Regions from separate parts of the Homo sapiens genome. Here region 1 is linked to region 2. The links come from fine-mapping of genetic effects on gene expression. A gene starts in region 2. The other region holds a variant in brackets. All regions are shown on one strand. Distances are from middle to middle. Region 1 overlaps DNM1L (dynamin 1 like). Region 2 holds the start of YARS2 (tyrosyl-tRNA synthetase 2).

What was found. PIP is the estimated chance that this variant, and not a neighbour inherited with it, causes the effect. A credible set is the group of variants that fine-mapping cannot tell apart.
Region 1: its variant is the best candidate, but not a certain one, in a credible set for the expression of YARS2 in blood mononuclear cells (TOPMed, PIP 0.50).

The regions. Positions count from the first base shown.
Region 1 is chr12:32,683,262-32,686,175 of GRCh38, forward strand. The region is part of intron 1 of DNM1L (dynamin 1 like); the gene reads left to right. Among named protein-coding and RNA genes, the nearest start is that of DNM1L, 5.4 kb to the left of the region's middle. The variant G/T (reference allele first, on the strand shown) is at 1,446.
Region 2 is chr12:32,754,243-32,757,156 of GRCh38, forward strand. YARS2 (tyrosyl-tRNA synthetase 2) reads right to left here and starts at 1,655. Exons shown (of 5, transcript NM_001040436.3): 1 at 854-1,655. The coding sequence starts at 1,632. RefSeq lists enhancers at 595-1,234, 791-950, 1,235-1,874, 1,321-1,420, 1,441-1,670 and 1 more.

The sequences.
Region 1 (2,914 bases), 71 kb before region 2:
CACCCAGGCTGGAGTGCAGTGGCATAATCCATAGCTCACTGTAACCTCAAATTCCTGGGCTCAAGCAGTCCTCTTGCCTCAGCCTCCTGAGTAGCTGGGACTACAGGCACGCATCTGGCTAATTTTTTTTTTTAAATTTAAAATCGCTGCCTTACTATGTTGCCAAGGCTGGTCTCAAACTCCTGGGCTCAAATGATCCTCTTGCCTTGGCCTCCCAAAGTGCTAGGAGTATAGGTGTGAGCCACTGCACCTAGCCTAAAAATAATTTGGATTTTATTTTATTTTATTATTTATTTTTTTAGAGATGGAGTCTTGCTCTGTTGTCCAGGCTGGAGTGCAGTGGTGCGATCTCAACTCACTGCAACCTCCGCTTCCCGAGTTCAAGTGATTCTCCTGCCTCAGCCTCCTGAGTAGCTGGGATTACAGGTGCATGCCACCACGCCCAGCTAATTTTTGTATTTTTAGTAGAGATGGGGTTTCACTGTGTTGGTCAGGCTGGTCTCGAACTCCTGACCTCATGATCCACTTGCCTTGGCCTCCCAAAGTGCTGGAATTACAGACATGAGCCACTGTGCTCGGCCTAATTTTTGTATTTTTAGTAGAGACAGCATTTTACAACGTTGGCCAGACTGGTCTCAAACTCCTGACCTCAAATGATCTGCCTGCCTCAGCCTCCTGCTGGGATAACAGGTATGAGCCACCATGCCCGGCCAGTAATTTGGATTTTAATTTCTAATTTGCAAATCAACTTTTAAAAATTTAACATTAAAAATACTGAAATATTCATGTAACACAAAATTCACCCTTATAAAGTATACACAACTCAGCAGCGTTTAGTATGTTCACAAAGTTGTACCACCATAGTGTAATTCCAAAATATTTTCATTACCTGAAAAAGAAAACTCCTGCCCATAAGCAGTCACCCCCGTTTTGTCCTCCCCCAGCTTCTGACAGGTTTTGATTTTATAAGCCCCACGTGGGTGAGGGTCCATCGGTGACTCTGATACAGATGGTTCCTAGATCCTAATTTGAAAAATATATTAGTGAATCATTGGATTTTAAAATGCATGATACTGGAAAAAGCAGGTATCACTGGCAACCACTAATCTACTTTTTGTCTGTATGGATTTGCCTATTTGGGATATTTCACATTAGTGGAATCCTATAATATGTGATTTGATCTTTTGTGCCAGGCATCTGTTGCTCAACATAATTCTTTTTTTTTTTCTTTTTTGAGACAGAGTTTTGCTCTGTTGCTCAGGCTGGAGTGCAATGGCACAATCTCAGCTCACTGCAACCCTTCACCTTCCGGGTTCAGGTGATTCTTCTGCCTCAGCCCGGATTACAGGCGCGTGCTACCGCACCCAGCTAATTTTTTTGTATTTTTAGTAGAGACGAGGTTTTGCCATGTTGGCCAGGCTGGTCTCGAACTCCTGACCTCAAGT[G/T]ATCTGCCTGCCTCAGCTTCCCAAAGTGCTGGGATTATAGGCATGAGCCACTCAACATAATGTTTTTTAGGTTCATCCATTATGTAGCATGGCAGAATAATAAATATTACATTGTATAGATACAGCACAGTTTATTCATCAATTGATGAATTTTTGGGTTGTTTCTATTTTTTGGCTATTATGAATAAATAATGCTCTGCGAACATTCGTTTACAAGTTTTTGTGTGAATGTGTATTTTTTTTTTTTTTTTGAGATGGAGTCTCGCTCTGTCACACAGGCTGGAATGCAGTGGCGTGATCTTGGCTCACCGCAAGCTCCGCCTCCCGGGTTTACGCCGTTCTCCTGCCTCAGCCTCCCGAGTAGCTGGGACTGCAGGTGCCCGCTACCACGCCCAGCTAATTTTTTGTTTTTAGTAGAGACAGGGTTTCACCGTGTTAGCCAGGATGGTCTCGATCTCCTCACCTCGTGATCCACCCGCCTCGGCCTCCCAAAGTGCTGGGATTACAGGCGTGAGCCACCGCGCCCGGTCAGTGAATGTGTATTTTTGATTCTCTTGGGTATATATCTAAGCGTAGACTTGCTGATTCATATGATAATTCTTACGTTTAACTTTCTGAAAAACTACCAAAGTGTTTTCCATAGTGGCTGCACCTTTTTTTTTTTTTTTTTTTGAGACAGGGTCTCACTTTCTCGCCCAGACTGGAGTGCTGTGGCGCTATCTTGGCTTACCGCAACCTCTGCCTCCCAGGCTCAAGGCGTTCTCCTGCTTCAGCATCCTGAGTAGCTGGGATTACAGGTGCCCGCCACTACTGCCCGGCTACTTTTTGTATTTTTAGTAGAGGCGAGGGTTTCCTTATATTGGTCAGGCTGGTCTCGAACTCCTGACCTCAAATGATCCACCCACCTCGGCCTCCCAAAGTGCTGGGATTACAGGCGTGAGCTGCTGCGCCCAGCCGTGGCTGCACCATTTCACATCCCCTCCAGGGTTCAGGTTTCTGCACATCCTTATCAACACTTGTTGTTATCTTTTTTTTTTAAGCGCTAAATCATTCTGGAATTCTTTATTTGAAAAACAGCACTTTTTGACACCTATGCCATTTCCTTCTCTTATGGACAACTTTTTTCATAGTTTGATGTCCCTCTCTCTTTTTTTTCTCCATGAGCACTGCTGTCTACATTTTAGCATTTATTGACTATAATTTAATTCCTGCTTATGCATTGTTTTCTTGTGTTCTTAGATAAATTTATGTTTTTCTCTTTTTTTGTATAGATTATGAGCTGCTGCTTTTTTTTAACTTAACAAAATTGAGGTGAAATTTGCAGAACATAAAATTAGCCTTTTTTTTTTTTTTTTTTTTTTGAGATGGAGTTTTGCTCTTGTTGCCCAGGCTGGAGTGCAATGGCGCGATCTCGGCTCACAGCAACCTCCACCTCCCGGGTTCAAGTGATTCTCCTGCCTCAGCCTCTC
Region 2 (2,914 bases):
TTACTCTATTCATTCTGAACCTCATGAGTGGTTCCAGGCAGGTTCTAGGCAGGCCAAGGGGAAGTGCTACATAACAATGGACTAGAGATTTTGAAAGGCTGAGTGGGAAGGAGAAAACTGGGTGAAGGGGTGTCAGGAAGAGACACTAAAGGAAATCTTCTAAACGCCTTTTAAACATGTGCTTTGCTCTGTTGCACATGAGCTAGCCCTATCCTTCACCTCTCTCAAGAAAATGCTATTAGACCCGCATTACTTGTCAATTATTTGGAGTTGAAAAAACTTTTTGAGATACCAACCAAGGACTAACACTAGTTTCATGGAGGGTGCAGAGCTAAAGCAGAGGCTAGCTACTCAAGGAGGCCCAGTCACGTTCTGGTATAAACACACAAAAGCAGTTTCTCTAATTAGAGAGGACGACTTAGGCGAAGCAAAACAGACCGACCAAATCTTCACTAGTGGTCTGTTTCCCTTTTTTTTTTTTTTTTTTTTGAGACGGAGTCTCCCTCTGTTGCCCCAGGCTGGAGTGCAGTGGCGCGATCTCGGCTCACTGAAACCTTCGCCTCCCGGGTTCAAGAGATTCTCCTGCCTCAGCCTCCCGAATAGCTGGGATTACAGGCGTGCATCACCACGCCCAGCTAATTTTTAGAATACACCGTTTACTCTTAATACCCTTAATTCAGCCCTTTAATTCTTATTAGCCAGTGTTATTAACGCCATTATAGAGCCTTAATGGGGATAAAACCAACAAGAGCTGGAACGAAGGGCAGCAACTACAATCCTAAGAGTGAATCACAGGCTACTAGTGTGTAAATTATTTGGTCCCAGGATTTCCCCAAGGTTTAAAGGCACTTACTTGTTGATGAACTCATATCCGGACATGATGTTGCCTAGTTGATCAGATCCGCCCAGCTGGACCCTGCATCCATAACGCTGGAAGAGGTAATAGAAGTCATAGGCCTGGAGCACCTGGTAAAAGAACTCGGCCAAGCTCATGCCCTCGGGGCTCTTGAGCCGCAGCTGCACGCTCTGCCGGCTCAGCAGCGTCCCCATGCGGAAGTGACCCCCCACTGCCGCCAGGAAGTCCACCAGGTGCTGCTTCTGGTACCAGGCCGAGTTGTCCAGCACAGTGAAGCTGCCCCAGGAGCGCCCATCAGTGAAAAGCTGCTGGTGATTAGCCGCCAGGGCCTCAAGCCCTAGGCGCAGAGCTCGCGCGTTGGCTCGCACGCGCTCTGTCTCCAGCGCCTCGCGTTCCTTGGTACGGCCGCTCGGGTCTCCCAGGCGCGCCGTGGCGCCTCCCACCAGCGCGATCACGTTGTGGCCCGCTCGCTGCAAATGAAACAGGCCCAGCAGCGCAAGTAGATGACCCACATGAAGCGAGTCTGCCGTGGGGTCGAAGCCACAGTAAATGGTTTGGGGAAAACTCGCCGTGCCACGGTCGAAGAGCTCTGGGAGCTCTATTTTCGTCCCCGTCTCCGGGAAGAAGTCCTTGAACAGACCTCGAGCCTTCTGCGCTGCCAGTAACCCCTGAGCGCCCGAGTGGGCCTTACGCAGCCCCAAGGGCAACAATACTGAGAGATTTAGGGTACCAGACCACCGGCCCCAGGAAAAGGACCGCAAGATGGGCGCCGCCATCTTGGTAGCGGCACGAAGGGAATGCTGGGATTGCAGAGGCTCCCACCACACCCACCTACTTACAGCTCCTAGGGAAGGTGCTTCAGTGTTTTTCTGCGCATGCCCGAGACGGTTACGTAGTTACGGAGCTTGCGCTCTCAGCAGTTGAGTCCCGACTCCAAGTGGCGATTCCGCCTCAGAGCCGTCGCCTTACGTTCCCTTAAACTTAATTTTTCCATCAGCAGTGTGGATCTGCTTATGATAGTTCCTACCTCATAAGGCTGTTGTGAGCCTTAAAAATTAAAGCATTTGGCACATAACGCTTCACAAATGCTAACTTGTATTTACATTTTCACGTAAAAAGATTGTGATGCGCAAGTTCTTTGAAGTCTTGGTTCCATGCAAAAAGCTGTTCACAGAGGTTGAGAAAGGTTAGGAATTGGTTTAAGTTCGCGGAGAGATAGGGAGTTGCTGCTGAGACGCAAGCAATTTCATAGTACCGATTCCCTAATTGCACCTCGTCCCCAGTATTCATCGGCTCTTCCAGGAGGTGGCAGTCTTGTCCAAGGTATAGCAAGAAAAACTCAGTGCAATAAAGTACATGCATCAAGTCCTGTGGTTTATTTATTTTAAATACAGTTAACTAGGTTGGGACACAGCTTAGCATGAGTGGATTCAAGTTAGTAATCACATCGTGCAGCGTGACAGGTGCTCTGAATACTGACCAGGGATGAGGTTCTTATTGGCAGCTGGCTGGCAGGTGATCTAGCTTCAAAATCCCATGTTAGAGCCTGATTTCTAGGACCGCTTTCAAAATCGTCTTAGGTAGAATTCCCTGGACTCTGAGTTGGGGGGGAGACTGGTTTGCAGGAGGGTAATTGGAGTGTGCTCTTAAGAACAACACCTATAATGGAGTGAGGGAGGCCGGGTTGGGCGGAGGGAGAAAGAAGTTGAACTGTGAACAATTTGTAATAGAGGCCTCAGGCAATCCAGTAAGGGCTCTGGAGCCGGGATTTCCTTTCAGAGTCATCCTGAATTGAGGCCAGGGGGCAGACCTTTAGACCCTCTTACTGACTGCTCATTAAATGTGGGATGTTTCTGGGGAGGAAGCAAAACGCTGGGTTAAGGCTTTTGGAGAGTGAGATGTGCAGGAAGGGACTCAGCTGTGAGCAATAAGCAACCAACACTCCCAGCAGCTGGGGGATTGAGTGCCTTGGTCCTGTGACTGGGATCTGGGCCATGTTCCAAATCATTCCCTACAGGACTTTTCCATTTTTTAACGTTATAAAGTTATCTAACAAAA